7 linked regions of the Homo sapiens genome follow. The protein of the gene in region 1 purifies or fractionates together with the protein of each later gene. This does not show direct contact. Each region holds a gene or a part of one and is shown in the gene's direction. Other genes may lie near its edges. The genes, in order: EFTUD2, CDC5L, SART1, USP39, BCAS2, PRPF4 and SF3B1.

Region 1 (3,500 bases):
AGAAGTTCTCAGCTATGAACCACCTGTGGCACCTGAAACAGAATTTTGAACGACACTTTGCTAGGTAGATTATAATTGTGTGGCTTCTCCCATAGGTGACATTAATTACCAAGAATTTGCTAAAAGACTCTGGGGTGACATCTACTTCAACCCTAAGACGTAAGTAGAGTATGGGACGTGACTTTCCAGAGGGGTGATCATTTACCCAGTAAGTGAGGACAGTGAAATTCTCTGAGTTCAAAGATTAAATACCTACTTTTTTTTTTTTTTTTAATGTAAACTACCGTCTTTCCTCCCCTAAATGGGTTGGCTTCCTAAGCTCTGATCTGGTGAGAAGCTGTTTCTCCTGAAGTCTTTACAGCCCAGCTCAGGCATCCAGGAGGGTCATAACCATGTATCCTTCCAGGAATCTGTCTCTGGAAACTTTACAGTCACACACACATTCCTCCCCTGGGCTGTTGTTCAGATTCAGCACTTAGACAATGCCTCTTGGGATCAGTGATAGTGCCTTTTCCCCTGGGTCACTCAGAACTTATTTTTCCTTTTAGGCGAAAGTTCACCAAAAAGGCCCCAACTAGCAGCTCCCAGAGAAGTTTCGTGGAGTTTATCTTGGAGCCTCTTTATAAGATCCTCGCCCAGGTGAGTGTGTCAGGTCACACTGGGCAGATCTGCTCTTATAAGCACAGTGTGGAAGAGCTGGTGAACTCACACTTCCCTCTGTCCCTAAACCTGCTCAGTTTTATGTCAAGTATAAGGGTGGTTGTTGGTCACTAATTGTTCCAGAAGTAATCTTCTGGATCCAGAACACTACATTACTCTAAGTGTTATTAAAATCAAAGGAAAGGGGCCCGGGCATGGTGGCTCATGCCTGTAATCCTAGCACTTTGGGAGGCCGAGGTGGGCAGATTGCCTGAGCTCAGGAGCTTGAGACCAGCCTAGGCAACACGATGAAACCCCGTCTCCACCAAAATACAAAAAATTAGCTGGGCATGGTGGCGGGCGCCTGTAGTCCCAGCTACTCGGGAGGCTAAGGCAAGAGAATTGCTTGAACTCAGGAGGCAGAGGTTGCAGTGAGCCGAGATTGCACCACTGCACTCCAGCCTGGGCGACAGAGCGAGACTCTGTCACCAAAAAAAAAAAAAAAAAAATCAAAGGAAAGGGAAAAGGTATGAAAGAAAAGACTTCTCCTAGAGCAGGTTTATGAACAGATCTTGACTATTGAGAAGAATGTGACACTTAGAACTAATCATTTCAGTTACGGAAATTTAACTTACAGATATAATTGTGAAAGTCCTCCTGCTTATTCATATAAGTCAAAGTGTTTATTATAGCATTTTTAGAGATAGGGTCCCACTCTGTCGCCCAGGTGGGAGTGCAATAGCACGATCATAGCTCACTGCAGCTTCAAACTCCTAGGTTTGAGCAATCCTCCCACCTCAGCCTCCTGAGAAGCTGGGACTGCAGGTGCAAGCTACCATGCCTGGCTAACTTTTAAAAAATTTTGTGTAGAGACAGGGTCTTGCCATTATCCCCAAGCTGGTCTCAAACTTGTAGCCTCAAGTGATCCTCCTGCCTTGGCCTCCCAAAGTGCTGGGCTTACAGGCAGGAGTCCACCACCTCAGCTTATAGCATTGTTTGTAACATCAGGAAAAGGGAAAAAACTGGAAATAAGTTAAATGTTTGTCAGTTATGCTCATTAATCTGATTAAATGAGTGATGGTACATCCCATAAAATGAACCGCTTTGCAACCACTTAAAGTATGTCTGAGCTGGGCACAGTGGCTCAGGCCTGTAATCCAGACGCTTTGGGAGGCCAAGGCGGGAGGATCACTTGAGTCCAGGAGTTCAAGACCAGCCTGGGCAACATGGCAAGACCCCATTTCTACTAAAAATACAAAAATTAGCCAGGCGTGGTGGCTCATGCTTGTAATCCCAGCTACTCTTGAGGCAGAGGCTGCAGTGAGCTGAGATTGTGCCACTGCACTCCAGCCTGGGTGACAGAGCAAGACTCCGTCTCAAAAAAAATAAAATAAATCAACTGGGACTGGTGGTGTGCACTTGTGGTCCCAGCTACTCAGGAGGCTGAGGCCAGAGGATTGCTTGAACCCTGGTGGTCAAAGCTGCAGTGATCCATGATCACACACCACTGCATTCCAGCCTGAGTGATGGAGTGAGACCCTGTCTCAGAAAAAAACAAAACAAAGCATGTTCGTATGAACTTTGCTTTCTTAACTGTTTGCACAATATGTGATGCTTGTCAGATTGAAATCATTTGTCAGGAGATGGTAAGGATTTAATTAAGCATGTGGAATGCTGAGAAGCAAAGAATATAACGTGGCCGGATGTGGTTGCTCACGCCTGTAATTCCAGCACTTTGGGAGGTCCCAGTGGGCAGATCGCTTGAGATCAGGAGTTCAAGACCAGCTTGGACAACATGGCTAAACCCTTTATCTCCGCACAAAATAGAATTAGCTGTTGTAGTGGTGTGTGCCTGTGGTCCCAACTACTTGGGGGGCTGAGGCAGGAGGATCACTTGAGCCCAGGAGGTGGAGGTTGCAGTGAGCCGTGATCACACCACTGCACTCCAGGCTGGGTGACAGAGTGAGACCCTGTCTCTAAAAAAGGGAATATAGCATGACGTTTATATGAATTTGTACTCCCTAAAAGATGGGACTAAAAGGGTAAAAATTATAGGAATTTTCATACAGACCTTTCTCCCAAGGCAGTAATAAAATATGCAGGTATTTAATAAGCACAGTGGACACACACATACACAAAATGTGTGTGGCCATTCCGGTGGACAAAACAGCAAAACCTAGCAACAAGATAAAATAGCAATTAAAATTTATTAGTGCTGAAAAATACTTAGTATCTTATGTCAGACTGGAATGGATTAATAAAAAAAATTTATAGAGCCTGCCTCAGTAGAGACCTTGAGTCTACTGAGGGTGATTTAGCTTGGCCCTGCCCTGACAGGATCCACAGCAAGGTGACCTTTTTTGGTTCCTTCCAGTGCACAATGATCCTCTAAATCTGAGAAGTCTGTAAATAGACTTCTGTTTAATAGGTGAGGGAGTTTCTGAGTGGGAGGAGATGCTGCTTTTCAGACACCAGGGGGCAGCACTGGGAGTAATCAATCTGAGTGCTTGGTTTATTGGCTGGGATGGGGATGTAACCAAGTTGGCTTTGCCTGTGGTTTGAAGGGTAGGTAGCAGAGATGCCGCTGAAACCAAACTTTTGTCCTTGCCAAGAGCTTTGTCTCCATAGAAGAGAGCCTTGTGAAGGAGTTCTTCAGATATTTCTTTGGACTTCCCTTGTCTCCCTCTAGCACCATGCTCAGGCTCTCACTACAGCTGACATGGTGTCTTACACCCTCACAGGTTGTAGGTGACGTGGACACCAGCCTCCCACGGACCCTAGACGAGCTTGGCATCCACCTGACGAAGGAGGAGCTGAAGCTGAACATCCGCCCCTTGCTCAGGCTGGTCTGCAAAAAGTTC
Region 2 (3,500 bases), on another chromosome or scaffold:
ATGAGCCCCAGCTTGTAAATTAATTGTGTTCTAAAAGTGCATAAGTTAGCTGTTTTAGAAATTACTTGCTCAAAGAAATAAATGATAAATAATGGCTAATTTTCTAAGTAAGCCTACAGTAGTTGAGTTTCCTCATAATACAGTTGAAATATTATATATTTTATAGTTAATATGTTATATATTATATATTAAACATACTTAATGTTATATATTATATATTAAACATATTTAATATGTTATATATTATATATTAAACATATTTAATATGTTATATATTATATATTAAACATATTTAATATGTTATATATTATATATTAAACATATTTAATATGTTATATATTATATATTAAACATATTTAATATGTTATATATTATATATTAAACATTTAATATGTTATATATTATATATTAAACATATTTAATATGTTATATATTATATATTAAACATATTTAATATGTTATATATTGTATATATTAAACATATTTAATATGTTATATATATTAAAAGATATAAGCCAACTCTGAACCTGTGGTGTCACCTCTTTTTTATTTTTATTTTTTGGGACGGAGTCTTGCTCTGTCGCCCAGGCTGGAGTGCAGTGGCGTGATCTCAGCTCACTGCAAGCTTTGCCTCCCGGGTTCACGCCATTCTTCTGCCATAGCCTCCTGAGTAGCTGGGACTACAGGCTCCTGCCACCATTCCCGGCTAATTTTTTGTATTTTTAGTAGAGACGGAGTTTCGCCGTGTTAGCCAGGATGGTCTTGATCTCCTGACCTCGTGATCCATCCACCTCGGCCTCCCAGAGTGCTGGGATTACAGGCGTGAGCCACCGCGCCCGGCTGGTGTCACCTCTTAAATCATAGGGTAGTGGACACGTGAAGCTATTTAGGGTGTTCTTGGCATGAGTTATTTAGCACCATCCCCAAGTCATGTGGCATTAGGAAAATACTTTGGATTGTATAAGAATGACCTAATTTCCTAGGCACCTGGTTAGGGGAAAGTATCAGAATGTAGAAATTGGCCAGGCGTGGTGGCTCACATCTGTAAGCCTAGCACTTCGGGAGGCCAAGGCTGGGATCACCTGAGGTCAGGAGTTTGAGACCAGCCTGGCCAACATGGTGAAAACCCCGTCTCTTCTAAAAGTACAAAAATTAGCCAGGCGTGGTGGCTACTTGGGAGGCTGAGGTGGGAGGATCGGTTGAACCCAGGAGGTGGAGGTTGTAGTGAGCTGAGATGCTGCCACTGCACTCCAGCCTGGGCGACAGAGTGAGGCTTTTTGAATGTAGAAATTGGCTGTTAAGAGGAAGATGATTTTTAGGCTGAAGAAGTCGTTCTGATTTCTGTTTGTCTTAGTGGTACCAGTTCCTGCTGTCATATTTGGTAGGACTTAAGTCCTGTTTGCCTGCCTGTCATCCAGCTAAGTAGACTGGATGGAAAAGGTGGGCTGGGTGGGGAATTAGGAAAGACAGAGGGAATGTCATAGTAGTTTTACTTAAATTTTAAAACATATCAAATGAAAGGTTACGGTGAATTTAGTGAGTGTAAGTCAAATGCTTAAAGAAATAAGCCATGGTGTGAGAATCAAAGCATGAGAAAATAGTATGAAAACTGGAAACACTGTAAGAAACGTGATTTTGTATTGTCTTCCAAATATTTCAAAATTTCTAGAAAAGCGTAAATAAATAAAAACATGATAGATGAGAAAGAAGGCTTATGATCATGATTCAGTGAAGTAACCTTTTTTAACCATTACTAATCTTGCATAATTAAAATAAAATAGAATGTGATGAGATGGGGAATATTGACTGGGGTAAGTGTAACCACACAGCAAATATTCTGTTGTCAAAAAGAACAGTTTTTGTAATTGAAGGATGAGAGCACAAGTCAGTGTATCCATTGTGCAAATTGGATATTTATGCCAGGTAACTGATTAATATATAAAATGATCTATGTTTAATAGGTATGAATGGCTGGATCCAAGCATTAAGAAGACAGAATGGTCCAGAGAAGAAGAGGAAAAACTCTTGCACTTGGCCAAGTTGATGCCAACTCAGTGGAGGACCATTGCTCCAATCATTGGAAGAACAGCGGCCCAGTGCTTAGAACACTATGAATTTCTTCTGTAAGTGAGTCTTCAGAAAGAGCATAGAATATATGTATATGTTCTGAAAGAGGCTGAATAAACTTTGAGTATTTTCTGTCTTTAAACTTTTAATTATGGATGTGAGTAAACCCAAAGCTAAAGCCATTGGATAATATTTTCCATATCTCAGATGGTTGATCAAAATTATGCCTTCTGTCATATACTTCCTAAAATAATAATTTAAAAGAATTATACAAGTCATGCATGTTCATCATAGAAAATCTGGGGAAAAAATAGTAAAAGAGCAAATAAAAGTCACCCATAATCACACTGCTAAGAATTAACTACTGGAACATTTTGGTTCTTTACTAATAGTTTTTTTTTTTTTTTTTTTTTTTTTAAATTTGTATGGCTGTACCGCATTTGTGATTAGGATCTGTTTGGGTTCTATTTTAGAGTGATTGAAACCAGTCACTGAAATCAGCAAATTTTAATATCATTTCTTTCAGATGAAGTGATAGTAAAAAGGCTTTATGTTGTTAAAGCCCATCCATTGGTTTTTTTGGGGGGAAAAATATCGTCAGAACTTGGAAATCTGGTAATTTTAACTCTAAATGGTACTGTAGTGTGACTAACTCCTATGGGCTTTTTTCTAGGGATAAAGCTGCCCAAAGAGACAATGAAGAGGAAACAACAGATGATCCACGAAAACTTAAACCTGGAGAAATAGATCCAAATCCAGAAACAAAACCAGCGCGGCCTGATCCAATTGATATGGATGAGGGTAAGTGTATGCTTTGAGGAATTTATTTCTTTGGTAACTGTAAACTCCTTGGGCCTCACTCTTTTAGTTCCTTTCTGAACTCCTCTACTTTAGAATCCCTTTTTTTTTTGAGACAAGGTCTTGCTCTGTTACCCAGGCTGGAATGAAGTGGCACAATCATGGTTCACTGCGGTTTTGACCTCCTGGGCTTAAGCAATCCTCCCATCTCAGCCTCCTGAGTAGTTGGGACTACAGGTTTATGCCGCCATACCTGGCTAATTTTTAAATTTTTTTGTAGAGATGGGGTCTCCCTGTGTTACCCAGGCTGGTCTCAAACTCCTGGGCTTAAGCTATCCTCCCTTTTCTGCCTCCAAAAGTGTTGAGATTATAGGTGTGAGCCACCATACCTGATCCCCAATTCTGTCAGCAGTGTTCTTATTCTAAGTATCTTTCCAAATATGTCCAGTGTTTTCTGTTATAGAGTAGTTGCTTTTTCTGAACAGCGCCCCTTCATCTTCTGTTTCTTCAATTCAGTTAATTAAGTTAATTAAGTGTTACGGGGTGTGGTGGTATGTGCCTGTAGTGCTAGCTGCTAAGGAAGTTGAGGTGGGTCGATCTCTTTAGCCCAGGAGTTGGAGGCCAGTCTGGGCAAC
Region 3 (3,500 bases), on another chromosome or scaffold:
CACCGTGCCCAGCCCTCTATTCTGTTTAAAGTCATGTTTTGCAAAAATTTTTAGATGCCTGCTTTAGTAGGGGATCCTTTCCTTGCCTCTCTCTTCTGTGCATGTTTGTTGAATGCCTGCTGTGAGTAGTGCATTGTTCTTGGGCTGAGAAGGTCATTGGTGAACAGGATAGCCATGGGGCCCTGGGCTCATGGAGCTGGCTTTCTAGAGTGTGTGGGGGAGAGCGTGGGGAGCAGCAGTGACTGTTAATGCAGGAACGGTAATTTCTGATGGTGGTGGGAGCTGGGCACTCAGTAAACCAAGATAACGTGCCGGGGGTTGGGATCTTAGATGGGAGAGTGCAGGGAAGACCTTTCCAAGGTACTAGTTCATCTGAGACTTGAGTCACACAGAGGAGCCAGCCTTGCGGGGGGTTAGGGGTGGCAGCAGGTGGACAGGCTGGCATTTAGGCAGTAGACCAACCAGCAGGTGTCTCAGGAGAAGTGACCTTAGAGTGCCTGAGGGCCAGGGAGGCTGGAGCAGAGCAGAGAGTGAGGGGTGGCGTGAGCTGAGATGGAGAGGTAGGGGGCCAACGCAGGGGGAGCCTTGACCCCATGGTCGTCGCTGCCCCAGAGGCACAGTGGGCCGGGCACTGCTCACATGTTCTGTGTTTGTTGATTCATTCCATCCTCCCAGCAACACCCTATGAGGAAGGTTCTGTCATCTCCATCATTCCAGAGGCCACACTTTTAGCCCTACCCCACACTTCTCACCTAGGAAGAAGCCAAGAAAGCGTGTCCAGGAGAGGGAGCAAGGGAGGGAAGCTTCTGATACTACTGGGAGGCAAAGTGGGGACAGTTGCAGTGGATTCAGGACCCGGAGGACAGGGGAGTTGAAAAAGTGAGGGCTGAACCCGGGACGGAGGCCAGGCTTACTGTTGAAGGGCTGGAGAGGACGTATTTGAGGTTTAAGGGCATATGGTCTCTGTTAGGCACCTTGAATGCTGTGCTGTTATAGGGAAAACAGCCAAGACAGTCTGTAAGTGAGTGGGCGTGGCTGGGTTCCAGTAATACTTTATTTCTAAGAACAGGTGTTGGGACATAGTTTGCCCGGCTAAAAAGGAACAGAGAAATGGAGCAATAGGCTGACAGGGCTGTTTTATGACTGAAATGAACATAAGGGTTTCTAGCCCCGTGGATCTCAGCCTGCCTGCACATTAGACTCACCTAGGAGGTTGTTTTTGTTGTTGTTTTAAGAAACAAGGTCTCGCTCGGTTGCCCAGGCTGGAGTGCAGTAGTGCAATCATAGTTCACTGCAGCCTTGAACTCCTGGGCTCAAGGGATCCTCCTGCCTCAGGCTCTCAAGTAGCTGAGACTACAGGCGTGCGCCTGTGGGTCTCAGTGTGTTGCCCGGGCTGGTCTCAAATTCCTGAGCTCAAACGATCCTCTCGCCTCCACCTCCCAAAGTGCTGGGGTTACAGGCATGAGCCACCAGGCCTGGTGTAGCCTAGAAAGTTTTTGTTGTTGTTTGAGACGGAGTCTCGCTCTGTCACCAGGCTGGAGTGCAGTGGCGCGATCTCGGCTCACTGCAACCTCCATGTCCCGGGCTCAAGCAATTCTCCTGCCTCAGCCTCCTGAGTAGCTGGAACTACAGGTGCATGCCACCACGCCCAGCTGATTTTTGTATTTTTTAGAAGAAACAGGGTTTCACCGTGTTGGTCAGGCTGGTCTCAAACTCCTCACCTTGTGATCCACCCTCCTCAGCCTCCCAAAGTGCTGGAATTAGAGGCATGAACCACCACACCCGGCCACCTAGAAGGTTTTTTAAACATATGAGCCACACCCCACACACTGTGCAGGCAAAAAAGTGGAAAGCCTATCACAGTGAACACCTTTGTCCTCTAGAGTCAGTAATTATAAACATTGTTACAGTTCTTTTCTTTCTCTTCTTTTTTTCCTGACCACTGGGAGTTGCAGATATCATGACACTGCATCCTTAACGACTTCAGTAGGCATCTGGCGAAATCAGGGCCTTCTCCCGCATAGCCACACTGCCCTAACAAGCCCATAAATGCTGTAAAACAGCAGCTCGCATGCCAACATTTTCCAGTTATCCCCCAAAATGTCTTTTTAGTTTTTTGTTGTAAGCAGCATCCAATCAAGTTTCCCACCCGCAAAGGAGCCTTTTCTGACTACCGGAGATTCTAGAGTATGTGGGAGACACATTTATGACGGAAGAAGAAAAAGATCTCGGCAGGCGGTGCTGGGGCCTAGAGTGCAAGTGGAGGGTGGGCTTGAGTGAAGCCAGCTCGTGTCATCATTTATTTCAGGAGGGAAGGTGGGGAGGGCACAGCAGCTGTGGGTGACCTTGTTTAGGGGAAGTCAAGGCAGCCCATGGCCGATTGTTCTGGTGTTTTTCCAGTGAAGAGGTGGCAGAGGTGGTGGTGCAAAGAGATGGGAGATGCTGTTCTGGAGAGTGGAGAGCAGATACACCCTGGGAGAAGAGCAGGCCTGCCAGTGGCAGTGTGGATGGTGGGATTCATGAGCTGAGGAGGGGGATGGTGGAATTCATGAGCTGCTGAGGGAGGGGGATGGTGGGATTCATGAGCTGAGGAGGGGGATGGTGGGATTCATGAGCTGAGGAGGGGGATGGTGGGATTCATGAGCTGCTGAGGAGGGGGATGGTGGGATTCAGGAGCTGAGGAGGGGGATGGTGGGATTCATGAGCTGAGGAGGGGGATGGTGGGATTCATGAGCTGAGGAGGGGGATGGTGGGATTCATGAGCTGCTGAGGAGGGGGATGGTGGGATTCATGAGGTGCTGAGGAGGGGGGTGGTGGGATTCAGGAGCTGAGGAGGGGGATGGTGGGATTCATGAGCTGAGGAGGGGGATGGTGGGATTCATGAGCTGCTGAGGAGGGGGATGGGATTCATGAGCTGCTGAGGAGGGGGATGGTGGGATTCAGAAGCTGAGGAGGGGGATGGTGGGATTCATGAGCTGCTGAGGAGGGGGATGGTGGGATTCATGAGCTGAGGAGGGGGATGGTGGGATTCATGAGCTGAGGAGGGGGATGGTGGGATTCATGAGCTGCTGAGGAGGGGGATGGTGGGATTCAGGAGCTGCTGAGGAGGGGGATGGTGGGATTCATGAGCTGAGGAGGGGGATGGTGGGATTCATGAGCTGCTGAGGAGGGGGATGGTGGGATTCATGAGCTGCTGAGGAGGGGGATGGTGGGATTCATGAGCTGCTGAGGAGGGGGATGGTGGGATTCATGAGCTGAGGAGGGGGATGGTGGGATTCATGAGCTGAGGAGGGGGATGGTGGGATTCATGAGCTGAGGAGGGGGATGGTGGGATTCATGAGCTGCTGAAGAGGGGGATGGTGGGATTCAGGAGCTGCTGAGGAGGGGGATGGTGGGATTCAGGAGCTGAGGAGGGGGATGGTGGGATTAATGCCCTGAAGCAGTGGATGGTGGGATTGAGGATTGGGTTTTCTAGGGAGGAGGGACAAGGCAGTTAAGGG
Region 4 (3,500 bases), on another chromosome or scaffold:
CCATTTTCAAAGCCTGTGATGATTTTCCTTTCAGCAAAGAATGGCCGAGTGGATTCTGAGGACCGGAGGAGCCGCCACTGCCCGTACCTGGACACCATTAACAGGTCAGTAGGACAGAGATGCTGAGTATAGCACAAGAACAATGGAATCTGTGCAGAAAGTTTTTGGACTGTACAGTGAACAACACATTGACAAACTTTACTTTTTTTGAACCTGTCTAGAGAGTTGTGCTTCTTGCCATGTTACTCCTTATTCTTTGATTTAAAGTGTCAGAACACATGTTGTTAAAGAGCTTATTTTGCATTTGTATGTTGGGATAACAGGATGCATAGTATCCTAAAATAACAGTAGCACATTGAAATGTTTATGGAGTATCTAGTATGTGCTGGATACTATTTTGGGTGCCTGGGATTCAGCAGAAAAAAAACACAGAAATTTGTTTGAAAGCTGAGGTAGTTTACCTCATCATAGCATTCTTTTCTCTGATTCCCAGGTGGCATGTAGAATGTTTTTCAACCTATATTGTAGGGGAATGTTTTACAATAATATAATTACTCTTGTAAGAGCTGGGTGTGGTGGCCCACGCCTTTACTCAGCCCTTTGGCAGGCCAAGGCAGGAGGATCCCTTGAGGCCAGAAATTTGAGACCAGCCTGGTCAACATAATGAGACCCATCTTTTTTTTTTTGAGATGGAGTTTCATTTTTGTCCCCCAGGCTGGAGTGCAATGGCGCGATCTTGGCTTACTGCAACCTTCGCCTTCCAGGTTCAAGTGATTATCCTGCCTCAGCTTCCTGAGTAGCTGGGATTACAGGTGCCCGCCACCACGCCCAGCTAATTTTTGTATTTTTTTTAGAAGAGACGGGGTTTCATCATGTTGGCCAGGCTGACCTCAAACTCCTGAACTCAGGAGATCCACCTGCCTTGGCCTCCCAAAGTGCTGGGATTACAGGCATGAGCCACCACGCCCAGCCAACGAGACCCATCTTTTAAAAAAACTTAAAAAAAAAGTTATGGCCGGGTGCTCTGGCTCATGCCTGTAATCCCAGCACTTTGGGAGGCTGAGGCAGGCAGATTGCTTGAGCTCAGGAGTTTGAGCATCCTGGGCAGCATGGCAAAACTTCAGCTCTACAAAAAATAAAAAAATTAGCCAGGTGTGGTGGTGCACTCCTGTAGTCCCAGCTTCTTGGGGGGCTGAAGCAGGAGGATTGCTTGAACCTAGGAGGTTGAGGCTGCAGTGAGCTGAGATTGCGCCACTGTACTCCAGCCTGGATGACAAAGTGAGACCCTATCTCAAAAAAAAAAAACCAAAAAAGTTATAAGGGCTGTTCATTATGGTAGGCATGAGCCACCTGTGGCTTCAGTGGCTCCTGCAGTTGAAGAACTGAATTTTAAATTTTATTTAATTGAATTACAGTCAGCCTCAGTATCAGGATATGGAACCTGAAGGTACAAAGGGCCAGCTGTAAGGGGCTTGAACATTGTGGATTTTGGTATTTGAAGGGGTCCTAGAACCAGTGTCCTGTGGCTACTGAGGGACAGCTGTATTTTAAATTTAATTGTCAATAGCCACTTTGTCTAGTGGCCTCTAATAAATTAGACAGCATAGCTCTTTGGGATTATTATCGGTTAATTAAGAGTTACTATTTGAGAATAAATCTCTTTGTGGATTCAGTGGAGATAAGGTTTTTGTTCCTTACTGCCAGTACTCACTTTGCACTTGAATAAATAGGTCTGTTTATAGGTATTCTGAAATTCTTCAGGCTATTTGTTTTTATGGATAAAAATACATTTTTATTTTGTAATTAATTATTATTATTATTTGTTTTTAAGAGAGGATCCCACTCTGTATCCCAGTCTGGAGTGCAGTGGTGGATCAGAGCTCATTAGTCACAAACTCCTGGGCTTAAGTGATATGTTTTTCTTTTATGCAAGGATTTATTCACCCTTTTTATGTCCTCTCCACCTCCAGAATGCTGCTGGGGTACTGTTACCTTAGTCTAACTTGTAGCTTTCTCTCTAGAGAAAGTGACTGCAATGGAAAGTCCTGAACTGGTTACAAACACTAATGAGAAAGAGGCTCGTGGGTATTATGTGTCTGGTGGAGACACCTCAACAGTGCTTTGGAGCATGGCGGGTGGAGGTGAGGAATAATCAGTGTCCCCCATGGTGTATATATGGTTGTGAACTGTTTTCTGAAGGATGTTATGTGGTATCATGGGTCACAGAGCCAGCACTGCTTCATTTGCGTGCCTTCCTACATGTCCATCCTATTTATTTTTTTCTGTTTTGTTTCCTTAGGAGTGTGCTGGACTTTGACTTTGAGAAACTGTGTTCTATCTCCCTCTCACACATCAATGCTTATGCCTGTCTGGTGTGTGGCAAGTACTTTCAAGGTAAATAAGTTGTTAGAGCTAACTGCAGATCTGCTCCAGAGGGACTTTTTTTTTTTTTTTAAAGAAAGTAAGCTGTTCTCAGGAATCATATCTAATAATTTCTATTTGTTCCCAGGAAATTGAAATATTCTTAGAAAACCAATAAGAGGTTCTCTGACTGGTCAGAACCTGGATATGTCTGTAAGGGAGAAAGAGCTAGTCATATGAAAGACTGTAATCTTAAAGACTCTGGGTTCTCGAATCTCTAATATATGTATTTTTTTAATTTTTACTTTTTTAAAATTATTTTGAGACAGTGTTGCCCAGGTTGGCTCACTGCAACCTCCGCCTCCTGGGTTCAAGCAATTGTCCTGCCTCAGCCTCCAGAGTAGCTGAGATTACAGGCGCCTGCCACCATGCCTGGCTAATTTTTGTATTTTTAGTAGAAACGGGGTTTCACCATGTTGGCCAGGTTGGTCTTGAACTCCTGGCCGCAGGTGATCCACCTGTCTTGGCCTCCCACAGTGCTGGGATTACAGGCGTGAGCCACCGCGCCCGGCCTAATTTTTTTTTTTTTTAAGAGATGGAGTCTCACTCTGTCACCCAGGCTGCAGTGCAGTGACGTGATCTTGGCTCACTGCAGCCTCTTGACTCCCAGGTTCAAGTGATTCTCCTGCCTCAGCCTCCTGAGTAGCTGGGATTACAGGCATGCACCATCACACCCGGCTAATTTTAGTATTTTTTAGTAGAGAGGGGGTTTCACCATATTGGCCACACTGGTCTTGAACTCCTGACTTTAAGTGATCCATACTCCTCAGCCTCCCAAAGTGCTGGGATTACAGGCATGAGCCACCGTGCACGGCCACATTTTTTTAAAAGATGGGATTGTACTCTGTTGCCCAGGCTAGTCTTGAAATTCCTGAGCTCAAGCAGTGTGCTTGCCTGTACCTCCCAAAGTGCTGGGATTATAGATGTGAGCCATTGCACCCTGCTGTCTGGCTAATTATTTTATTTTATTTTTTTGTGGAGACAAGGCCTTATTATGTTACCCAGGCTACAATTTTTTTTTTTTTTTTGGAATATTCTTTAGCTCAAAGGACTTTTTTTATTCCATTTTTTTCTGAAAA
Region 5 (3,500 bases), on another chromosome or scaffold:
GTGGTTGAGGAAGGCCTCTCAAAGCTAAGATGAGACTACTCCATGAGCAGGGATTGCCCTTGCCGCTCCATGAACACTGGCTTAGTCTTTGGAGAGAGATGAGCTAAAATTCCAGATTTATCACTTACTGAGCATGTGAGTTAGTTAAGGGTTCCTCCTATGCTACATGGCTCAAGACTACTTATACTGCATTTTTATACTGCCTCGTGTTTAATTGGCTGTTTACTCCTTGTCTGTCACTGCAGAATTTTCTAGCTAGAATGCCCTGGTTTTTTTTTTTGCAGGAAACTAGGTAACTACATTTTCTTAAGATTGTGTGTAATTTAGCAGTAGCCCCTGCAAAATACTTTCTGCAGAAAGAAATGCTTAATACGAAATTTTTTGTTTTTTGTTTTTTGTTTTTTTGTTTTTTTGTTTTTTTGTTTTTGAGATGAAGTCTCACTCTGTTGCCAGGCTGGAGTGCAGTGGTGTGATCTCAGCTCACTGCAACCTCCACCTCCCAGGTTCAAGCAATTCTCCTGCCTCAGCCTCCGAGTATCTGGGATTACAGGCACGTGCCATCACGCCCAGCTAATTTTTGTATTTTTAGTAGAGATGAGGTTTCAACTTGTTGGCCAGGATGGTCTTGATCTCTTGACCTCGTGATCCACCCACCTCGGCCTCCCGAAGTGCTGGGATTACAGGCATGAGCCACCTCGCCCGGCCTAATAAAAACTTTTAAACATTCATGCAGGCTTCTGTAAGGCCTTTGATACTTATTTAGTCTAATTGTTAAGATAGTTGAAACCCTCAGAAAATTAAAATTACATGGAATAACCGAAGTATTACTACAAAGAAATATTTTAAGCAGTTCTTTATCCTCAGGGTAGGAAATGTGCAGAATGGAAATGGGTTAGGACGTTGGCCCTAAAGAGGAACAGCTATACTACATTTACTTGCGAACAGTAAAATTGCTAGAGAAGATAGTGAATATAAAGAAAAGACACTTTGGGAGGCTGAGGCAGGCCGATCACCTCAGGTCAGGAGTTCGAGACCAGCCTGGCCAACATGGTGAAACCCTGTCTCTACTAAAAATACAAAAATTAGCCAGGCATAGTGGCAGATGCCTGTCATCCCAGCTACTCGGGAGGCTGAGGCAAGAGAATCGCTTGAACCCGGGAGGCAGAGATGAGCCAAGATCGCGCCATTGCGCTCCAGCCTGGGGGACAAGAGCGAGACTTCGTCTCACAAAAAAAAAATAAATAAATAAATAAATTATTTCTTGGATTTCTGGAGGCTGGAAAGTGTACGGTTCACAGGCTGCATCTGGTGAGGGCCTTCTTGCTGGTGTGGACTTGGTGTACAGTCCTGAAGCAGCACAGGGCATTACATGGCAAGGTAGGGGCACACAAGAGAAAGACAAACTGGCTTTTATAACATACCCACTCTGGTGATAACTTATTAACCCATGAATGGATTGAGCCTTCATAACCCAATCACCTCTTAAAGACCCCACCTCTTAATACTATTACATTGGGGATTAAGTTTCTGTATGAATTTCAGAGGGGACAAACATTCAAACCATAGCACTGTCGAACTGATTCTGATATGCTTCTGGAATTAAGAACCACTGGTTTAGGATTAATCCTTTTCTCTGTGGGCTCCTTAATACATGCCACTTTTCCTGAATGTGAAGTGAGTGAGTGAGTGTGTGTGTGTGTGCTTCAGATTCTAGAGAGCATTTAACTCAGAGAAGAATTAGGGAAAGGTAAACAATTCATTATAATGGGTAGTGTAGCTTAAATCTGTTCTTTGGTGATTGTTAATTTTTAGTTGTCAACATGATCTTAGAAATCTTTTTTCTGATTTACACATCAGACTGACATAATGAGAAATGAATTTGAAAGACTGGCTGCTCGACAACCAATTGAATTGCTCAGTATGAAACGGTAAGAATATTAAAATGGAAATTAAAATTTAGTTTGTAGTAACTCAGTAATGAGCTGAGATTTGTGAAGAATGTATTTGCTGGCTAATATTGGCAGTGTTGGCCGGGTGTGGTGGCTCACACCTGTAATTCCAGCACTTTGGGAGGCCGAGGCTGGTGGATTGCTTGAATCCAGGAGTTTGAGACCAGCCTGGGCAACATGGCAAAACCCCATCTCTACCAAAAATAATTAATAATAATAATAATAATAATAATAAACGTACCTGGGTGTGGTGGCACGCACCCGTGGACCCAGCTACTTGGAAAGCTGAGGTAGGTGGATCGCTTGACACCCCCCAGGAGATGGAGGTTGCAGCAAGCCGAGATTGTGCCACTGCACTCCAGCGTTGGGGACAGAGGGAGACCCAGTCTTGAAAAAAAAACTATATATATATATATATAGAGAGAGAGAGAGAGAGAGAGAGAGGCAGTGTTGAAGGACTGACTGGGTAGTATGAAGAGAGAATAGAAGGAGTCATATCGCTTCTCATTTTTTTCTCTACCGGCGCATGGGTATGTTAGTGGATGGGTGGGTGTGAGTATTTTACAAAAATGGTAGCAAACTTTTTTGTCTACTGCTTTTTCCCCTTAATATATTACTGACATCTTAATATTATTAAATATTCTTCAGTAACATTTAATAGCTAATGTAACAATCTTTTATGTGAATGTAATGTTGCTTATTTAACCAGTTCACATTGAAGTGAACATAATGGTGCTAAATCATATTTGTAAATTGATTGTTAGCATATATCGGTTTCTTATTATTGCAAGGTTTACATCCTTAGTCTTCTGTAGTTTTTATACTATATGGAGACTCATGGGACATTCTACTGAGAAGAGATGTAAAGGCTTGGCAGTATAGATGGTTTTATTTTATTTTGTTGTTTAATTTCAGATATGAGCTTCCAGCCCCCTCCTCTGGTCAAAAAAATGACATTACTGCATGGCAAGAATGTGTAAACAATTCTATGGCCCAGTTAGAGCATCAAGCAGTTAGAATTGAGAATCTGGAACTAATGTCACAGCATGGATGTAATGCCTGGAAAGTATACAATGAGTAAGAACCTTTTTCTTCATCTTCTGTTTTTTTTGTTTTTTCTCTTTTCTTTCCATCTCACCCAAAGTTTTAGTACATTTTAAAAGTATGGGAGGTGCTGGGTGCAGTGGCTCATGCCAGTAATCCCAGCCCTTTGGGAGGCAGAGGTGGGTGGATTGCTTGAGGTCAGGAGTTCGAGACCAGCCTGGCCAACATGGTGAAACCCCATTTCTACAAAAAAAAAAAATACAAAAAATTAGCTGGGCATGGTAACGTGTGCCTGTAATCCCAGCTACTCTGGAGGCTGAGGCATGACAATTGCTTCAGCCTGGGAGGCAGAGGTTGTAGTGAGCCAAGATTTTGCCACTGCACTCCAGCCTAGGCGACAGAATGAGACTCTATCTCAAAAAAAAAAAAAAAAAAAGAAAAGAAAAAGAAAAGCCGGGCGCGGTGGTTTACACCTGTAATCCCAGCACTTCAGGAGGCCGAGGCGGG
Region 6 (3,500 bases), on another chromosome or scaffold:
GATGTTCTGTACTCTTACTTGCTGGTCTCAGCCAAAGTGTGTGTTTATATAGGCACAAAGTTAATAAATGAAACAAGAGGTGGCTTGAACCATTTTCTTGCCTTTTGAAGCTGTGTCATTTAGGTTTATGTGTTTGGCATAATTTAATAAACTGAAAAACAGTAAACTATAAAATGTGTAATAGACAGTTACTTTTCCCTCAGGGCATACACAGACTGCAATTACTAGAAATTATTTCTCTCTATTTGAAGAAGATCTGCTGATGTTGCCTGTTTTCTTTTTAATAGGAGAAGTGTTTGAAATTGAAGAGCATATCAGCGAGCGACAGGCAGAAGTATTGGCTGAGTTTGAGAGAAGGAAGCGAGCCCGGCAGATCAATGTTTCCACAGATGACTCAGAGGTCAAAGCTTGCCTTAGAGCCTTGGGGGAACCCATCACACTTTTTGGAGAGGGTCCTGCTGAAAGAAGAGAAAGGTTGCCTTTCTAAATATTTACTTTTTTTCTTTATTATAATCACAGGGTTCTACTCCAAATTTTGGTTGATCATTTAGTTGAACTTTAATAGAATGTCTCAAATCATGTTAACAATATCTTACTGTGTTTATATGAGTTAGCCCATAATCTGTCTTAGGCCAATTTTTACCGCACTATTAATGTTTCTTTTTTGTGTTTGTTCGTTTTTGTTTTGTTTTGTTTTGTTTTGTTTTGTTTTGTTTTGTGTTTTGAGACAGAGTCTTGCTCTGTCACCCAGGCTTGAGTGCAGCGTCGTGATCTCGGCTCACTGCAGCCTCCGCCTCCCGGGTTCAAGCGATTTTCCTGCCTCAGCCTCCCAAGTGGCTGGGATTACAGGCACCTGCCACCACATTTTTCTTTTTTGTATTTTTAGTTATTTTTTATATTTTTGTATTTTTAGTAGAGACAGGGTTTCACCATGTTGGCCAGGCTGGTCTTGAACTCCTAACCTCAAATGATTTACCCACCTTGGCCTCCCAAAGTGCTGGGATTACAAGCGTGAGCCTTCGTGCCTGGCCCGTTTTTCTTTATAGACTTGGAAGAGGGTGCTAACATGCTCCCTTGCCTCCCCTCCCCAGTGCGAGTTTTGAATTGGATAAACATTTGTTGTTGGGCTTTGAAAATTGAGACATCAAATGCATTCCATATCAATGACATAGAACAATGATAAATGTTTCTTGGATTTTATTGAAGAGGGGTACCATCCTCAGATAATGCCCTCTTGTTATTTGCAGGTTGCGAAGTCTTAGTTGTGGTCTAGTCACACACAATTATGAGGAGCCCCTCTGGTCTCTCTGTCCACTGTCTCATCTACCCTTCATCATCCAGCTTGTTGGAAGGGTTTTTTCTATTACTCCCTTGAGGTCCTTACCCTTATTTACTCTTCAACCTGCTGCAAACTGACCAACCCCTACCACATTAAAATTGCTCTTTGTTAAGATCACCAATCCACCTTTACTAAGAATAGCCCTAGTATACTGCCAGCCACTCCTCCTTGAAATACTCCCTCCTTGAACTACTCCCTTTCCTTCACTCTCCTAATAACAAATCCTCTTGATTTTCCTCTTCTCTCACTAGCTAATTCTTCTCACTTACCTTCTAAACCTCTTTTTCTCTGCCTGCCCTTTACAGGCTGCCTTTTTCTCTACTTGCCCTTGGTGATCAGCTCTACTCCCATGGCATCATTCACTGTGTGTTCTGATGATTCCCAAATCTCTCACTGCAGCTTAGGTATCCCACAGGTACTTCAAACTTGAGACATCTGAATTGAAATATTTCCCCACCTCTCTCCTATACTCATACAATTCTTAGTTGAAAATCTGCCTAGCCTCCTTTATAATCCATTAGCAAAATCTGGTCTGTTCTACTTGCGAGATACAACTCCAGCTATCTTCTTTGCTCTATCTTTACTGCTTTCAAATCTGCACTGTTGTGATAGCCCCAAACATGTTGTGTTAATTGCTTGCTTAAAATCCTAGATTGTCTTCTCATACTTGGAGTAAAAAACTCTTACCATGGTCTGTAAGGTCTTCAGCCTTACTCATGTCTCCCTTCCCCAATTTACTAGAATAGCCACATTGGTCCTTATGGAATATGCTAGTTCTTTTTATGTCTTTCCACATAATTGGTCTACTTTTATTCTTCTGTCTTGTCTTTTAGAGGCTTTTTTTCTTCCTTTTTTTTTCTTTGAAACGGAGTCTCGCTCTGTCACCCAGGGTGGAGTGCGGTGGTGCAATCTCAGCTCACTGCAACCTCCACCTCCCAGGTACAAGCCATTCTCCTGCCTCAGCCTCCCAAGTAGCTGGGACTACAGGCATGTGCCACCATGCCTGGCTAATTTCTGTATTTTTAGTAGAGACGGGGTTTCAACACGTTGGCCAGGTGTTGAACACCTCCTCAAGTGATCCTCTCAACACCTCCTCAAGTGATCCGCCTGCCTGGGCCTCCCAAAGTGCTGGGATTACAGATGTGAGCTACCGCGCCCGGCCTTTCTTCTTCATTTTTTATTAACCTGGATCCCTGTCAAACTTCTTATTCTTTCGTTTCAGCATAGATGCCACCTATTCAAAGAAGCCTTTCGTCACACCTAACCCCTCTGTTCTCTGTCATAGTATGTTATTTTATTAGCCTTTTCAAAGGGTATACTTTTTTATTATTGTTTAGTTTGTTTTTTCCACCAGCAAAGTCTATCTTATTCATTATTATGTTCCTTAAATGAATCCTTTGAGTCACTACTGCTACTATCTGAATTTCAGTCCACGGTTGTGACTCAGAGCGTCACTACAACAGTACTGTCTGATTTCCCTGCCATTATTCTTCCCTTTTAATCCATTCTTTGTACTGTTTCAGGGATCTTTCTCATCTGTAAATCCTCCTGAGCGTGGCATTAGCAATTCTTTGTGACCTGGCTCCTCCTTGCATTTGCAGCCCTATTCTTCACCAGTCCTCTTCTATGTTCTACGCTCCAGCCATATTGAATTATTTGTGACTGCAAGCTCAACATGTTTTTCTTACCTCCAGGCCTTATTTGTTTAACCCTCTGCCTGACATTTTCTCATTCTTGACCCCCTTGACCTGATTAACTGAGGACTCAATTTACATATTACCTTTTTTTAATGAAGCCTTCCCTGATCCTCTAAGCTTAGTTAGATGCCCGTTACAAAGTCCCCTCTAGCCCTCTGTGCTTACTGCTATAGTGATAGGTAATATAATGGATTATAGTTTGCCAGTACTCTCTGTTGTTTCCCCAGGACTAAGCTACTTGAAATCAAGAACTGATTCCTAGTCATCACTGTATAGTTAGCACCTGAGTCAGTATCCAGTACATTGTGGCACTGAGTGAAAGTTGGCAGTCTTCACAGACCAAGTGGTAGCAGTGTAGGGGCTCATTGACTCTAAACTGTATAGAGTAATTGCTTATAGTTGAATTTTGGAAATTTCCAAATAGAGAAGACTGAGTGGGAGAAACCACACTGGGAGTTTAGCCA
Region 7 (3,500 bases), on another chromosome or scaffold:
TAGGTGGAGACTGCAGTGAGCCGTGATTGTGCCACTGCACTCAACCTGGGCGACAGAGTGAGACCCTGTGTCAAAAAACAAATGAAAATCCACCTCTCATCTTTTTTCATTAATCTTGCCAGCATCAGCTAGGGTAATATTATTTGGTACACATGTAACTGTACATACAAACTGATCTCAAGATTGAAATCATGTGACGGTATCTGGTTATAATTACATAGGTGGGGCCTGGTGCGGTGGCTCACGCCTGTAATCCCAGCACTTTGGGAGGCCAAGGTGGGTGGATCACGAGGTCAGGAGTTCGAGACCAGCCTGACCAACGTGGAGAAACCCTGTTTCTACTAAAAATACAAAAATTAGCCCGGCGTGGTGGCAGGCACCTGTAACCCCAGCTACTCAGGAGGCTGAGGCTGGAGAATCACTTGAACCCGGGAGGCAGAGGTTGCTGTGAGCCAAGATCATGCCCCGGCACTCCAGCCTGGGTGACAGAGCGAGACTCTGTCTCAAAAAAAAAAAAAAAAAAAAAATTACATAGGTGATCTAAAGCATGTTTATATTAATTAAACACACACAATTAAACAAAACATCAACAGGACTATTTTCTTAGAACACACGAATTCCTTCTCCCCTAAATATGTGTCTCTAAGCCCCACTTTGAGAAGTACTAATGTAATTAGAGCTGAAAGCCTTCGATTACTGATCTAGATAGAGAAACCTCAGTGATTTCCCCCAGTCACAGAGCTATTAATGGCATATCAAAGATTCATATCGATAATATTTTGTTTTTTTAAGCTGGGACTTTTGTCAGTGCTTCGGATTGAAACTTTACATTGTTTTTAATCATAAACATTTGCTAGAAAGTAGGTATCTTTTCCTATAAGTAGAGGTAGTGTCTTCTAACTTTTCATTAATTATAGTGCATAGAACTAAAACATTTTTCGTTTAAAGTTTTTTATTTTATGGAAATTTTCTAATTATTTCTGTGTGGGTGTGTGAAATAAAATTTTTTTGCTTTTTTAAGACCCCTGGGCATACTCCTTCCTTAAGATGGGATGAGACACCAGGTCGTGCAAAGGGAAGCGAGACTCCTGGAGCAACCCCAGGCTCAAAAATATGGGATCCTACACCTAGCCACACACCAGCGGGAGCTGCTACTCCTGGACGAGGTGATACACCAGGCCATGCGACACCAGGCCATGGAGGCGCAACTTCCAGTGCTCGTAAAAACAGATGGGATGAAACCCCCAAAACAGAGAGAGGTACTTCTAGTGGAGTATGGGTGTGTGGGTGAAATGTTGAGTGATATGTTTACAGACTGAAATGTGTTCTGTTTATTCCTGGGTGGACACGTATAAATAACCAGCTGCTTTTGGGGGACAGATTAAGAATAGAACAGTTCATATGCCTAATTTTTTCCACTTCTTGAAGTGGTTTAAGATTTAAGGAAGAACCTTAGGTAAAAGTAAAGTTAGTAGGCTGTAACCTTTGATTTTGTGTGTTTCTTTAGAGATAGGGTCTTGCTCACTGTAGCCTTGACATCCTAGGCTCAAGTGATCTTCCCACCTCAGCCTTCTTAGTAGCTGAGACTATAGGGGCATGCCACCATGCCTGGCTAATTTTTTTTTTTTGAGATGGAGTTTTGCTCTTGTTGTCCAGACTGGAATGCAATGGCGCGATCTCAGCTCACTGCAACCTCCACCTCCCGGATTCAGGCGATTCTCCTGCCTCAGCCTTCCTGAGTAGCTGGGATTACAGGCATGCGCCACCAAGCCCGGCTAATTTTGTATTTTTAGTAGAGACGGGGTTTCTCTATGCTGGTCAGGCGGGTCTCGAACTCCCGACCTCAGATGATCTGCCCCCCTCGGCCTTCTGAAATGCTGGGATTACAGGCATGAGCCACCGCTTCCGGCCCCTGGCTAATTTTTAAATTTTTTGTAGAGACAATGTCTTGCTTCATTGCCCAGCCTGGTGTTGAACTCCTGGTTTCAAGTGATCTGCCAAAGTGTTGGAATTACAGGCATGAACCACTGTGCCTGACTTACCCTTTGTTTTTTATTATGGAAAAATGTACATAACATCAAATTTACTTTTTTTGTTGTTGTTGTTGAGATGGAGTCTTGCTCTGTCACCCAAGCTAGAGTGCAGTGGTGCGCTCTCGGCTGACTGCAACCTCTGCCTCCCCAGTTCAAGTGATTCTTTTGCTTCAGCCTCCTGAGTAGCTGGGATTACAAGCGCCCACCACCACACCTGGCTACTTTTTGTATTTTTAGTAGAGACAGAGTTTCATCATGTTGATCAGGCTGGTCTCAAACAACTTTAAATGGGTCACCATTTTAGGAATATTCTATTTTAGAACTTGATAGTTTTGAGTATAACTGTTTGAGAATAAAGAATATTATTTTAACAGTGATTAAAATTGTGGTTTTACTCACTCTTTCTTTTTAAAGATACTCCTGGGCATGGAAGTGGATGGGCTGAGACTCCTCGAACAGATCGAGGTGGAGATTCTATTGGTGAAACACCGACTCCTGGAGCCAGTAAAAGAAAATCACGGTGGGATGAAACACCAGCTAGTCAGATGGGTGGAAGCACTCCAGTTCTGACCCCTGGAAAGACACCAATTGGCACACCAGCCATGAACATGGCTACCCCTACTCCAGGTAGAACTGTCTCATTGGACATAATTGTTTTTTTCTCCATAAATTATTTAATTTTTTCCTTTGTGGTATTCTGTGTACTATTAATGTCAACTTCTAGTAAGAATAAGGAGATATACAAATTTAAGTCTTGGTTTGCGTTTATAATATAAAAGCAAATAATAGGATTGATCTTAACTGTCTTTTATCTCAATGTATGTAATAATACAGTCTTGTACTATAGATTATATAAAAATTTGCTTTTCTTGGTAGGTCACATAATGAGTATGACTCCTGAACAGCTTCAGGCTTGGCGGTGGGAAAGAGAAATTGATGAGAGAAATCGCCCACTTTCTGATGAGGAATTAGATGCTATGTTCCCAGAAGGATATAAGGTAGTACATCAAATTTGAATGAGGTGGTATTTAGGATATACATTTATTTTAAATAGTGAAAAAAATTGATTAAGCTTGCATTGGCTTTGCCCAAATTTACTATTGTCATTCCATTCTCTTAGCTATTTCCAGGTATATTTCAGTTCCATATAGAGATGAAAAGAAATGAACAACATGAAACTTTTATTACTTTTTGAAAGACATCTCAAAGACTTGTGTATGGGTCTATCGGTTATACTTTGAGAACTGCTGGTGCTTCAGTTTTCTAGCAGTCCCAGGAATAAGCTCGTTGAGATTGTGGTTATTTTACTTGGTGCTTCACCAAGATTTTATATACTTAAGTTTATGGATTGTCAGTGGACACAAAGAATTTTTTTTTTTTTTTTTTTTTAAAAGATGGAGTCTCACTCTGTTGCCCAGGCTGAAGTGCAGTGGCGTGATTTCGGCTCATTGCAACCTCCGCCTCCCA

The links.
Region 2: the proteins of EFTUD2 (region 1) and CDC5L purify together in Homo sapiens (affinity purification with mass spectrometry; 6 studies listed by BioGRID and IntAct, with this or other methods). This does not show direct contact.
Region 3: the proteins of EFTUD2 (region 1) and SART1 purify together in Homo sapiens (affinity purification with mass spectrometry; 4 studies listed by BioGRID and IntAct, with this or other methods). This does not show direct contact.
Region 4: the proteins of EFTUD2 (region 1) and USP39 purify together in Homo sapiens (affinity purification with mass spectrometry; 4 studies listed by BioGRID and IntAct, with this or other methods). This does not show direct contact.
Region 5: the proteins of EFTUD2 (region 1) and BCAS2 purify together in Homo sapiens (affinity purification with mass spectrometry; 3 studies listed by BioGRID and IntAct, with this or other methods). This does not show direct contact.
Region 6: the proteins of EFTUD2 (region 1) and PRPF4 purify together in Homo sapiens (affinity purification with mass spectrometry; 4 studies listed by BioGRID and IntAct, with this or other methods). This does not show direct contact.
Region 7: the proteins of EFTUD2 (region 1) and SF3B1 purify together in Homo sapiens (affinity purification with mass spectrometry; 4 studies listed by BioGRID and IntAct, with this or other methods). This does not show direct contact.

What each region holds. Positions count from the first base shown.
Region 1 is NC_000017.11:44,864,946-44,868,445, reverse strand, and holds part of EFTUD2 (116 kDa U5 small nuclear ribonucleoprotein component), read left to right. Parts: intron 1-95; coding exon 96-159; intron 160-548; coding exon 549-639; intron 640-3,380; coding exon 3,381-3,500. UniProt on the Homo sapiens protein: Required for pre-mRNA splicing as component of the spliceosome, including pre-catalytic, catalytic and post-catalytic spliceosomal complexes. Component of the U5 snRNP and the U4/U6-U5 tri-snRNP complex, a building block of the spliceosome.
Region 2 is NC_000006.12:44,390,706-44,394,205, forward strand, and holds part of CDC5L (cell division cycle 5-like protein), read left to right. Parts: intron 1-1,961; coding exon 1,962-2,123; intron 2,124-2,740; coding exon 2,741-2,868; intron 2,869-3,500.
Region 3 is NC_000011.10:65,968,234-65,971,733, forward strand, and holds part of SART1 (U4/U6.U5 tri-snRNP-associated protein 1), read left to right. Parts: intron 1-3,500. UniProt on the Homo sapiens protein: Plays a role in mRNA splicing as a component of the U4/U6-U5 tri-snRNP, one of the building blocks of the spliceosome. May also bind to DNA.
Region 4 is NC_000002.12:85,619,186-85,622,685, forward strand, and holds part of USP39 (ubiquitin carboxyl-terminal hydrolase 39), read left to right. Parts: intron 1-34; coding exon 35-104; intron 105-2,299; coding exon 2,300-2,394; intron 2,395-3,500.
Region 5 is NC_000001.11:114,575,116-114,578,615, reverse strand, and holds part of BCAS2 (pre-mRNA-splicing factor SPF27), read left to right. Parts: intron 1-1,857; coding exon 1,858-1,928; intron 1,929-2,864; coding exon 2,865-3,026; intron 3,027-3,500. UniProt on the Homo sapiens protein: Required for pre-mRNA splicing as component of the activated spliceosome. Component of the PRP19-CDC5L complex that forms an integral part of the spliceosome and is required for activating pre-mRNA splicing.
Region 6 is NC_000009.12:113,278,658-113,282,157, forward strand, and holds part of PRPF4 (U4/U6 small nuclear ribonucleoprotein Prp4), read left to right. Parts: intron 1-287; coding exon 288-474; intron 475-3,500. UniProt on the Homo sapiens protein: Plays a role in pre-mRNA splicing as component of the U4/U6-U5 tri-snRNP complex that is involved in spliceosome assembly, and as component of the precatalytic spliceosome (spliceosome B complex).
Region 7 is NC_000002.12:197,407,529-197,411,028, reverse strand, and holds part of SF3B1 (splicing factor 3B subunit 1), read left to right. Parts: intron 1-1,021; coding exon 1,022-1,259; intron 1,260-2,447; coding exon 2,448-2,660; intron 2,661-2,909; coding exon 2,910-3,031; intron 3,032-3,500. UniProt on the Homo sapiens protein: Component of the 17S U2 SnRNP complex of the spliceosome, a large ribonucleoprotein complex that removes introns from transcribed pre-mRNAs.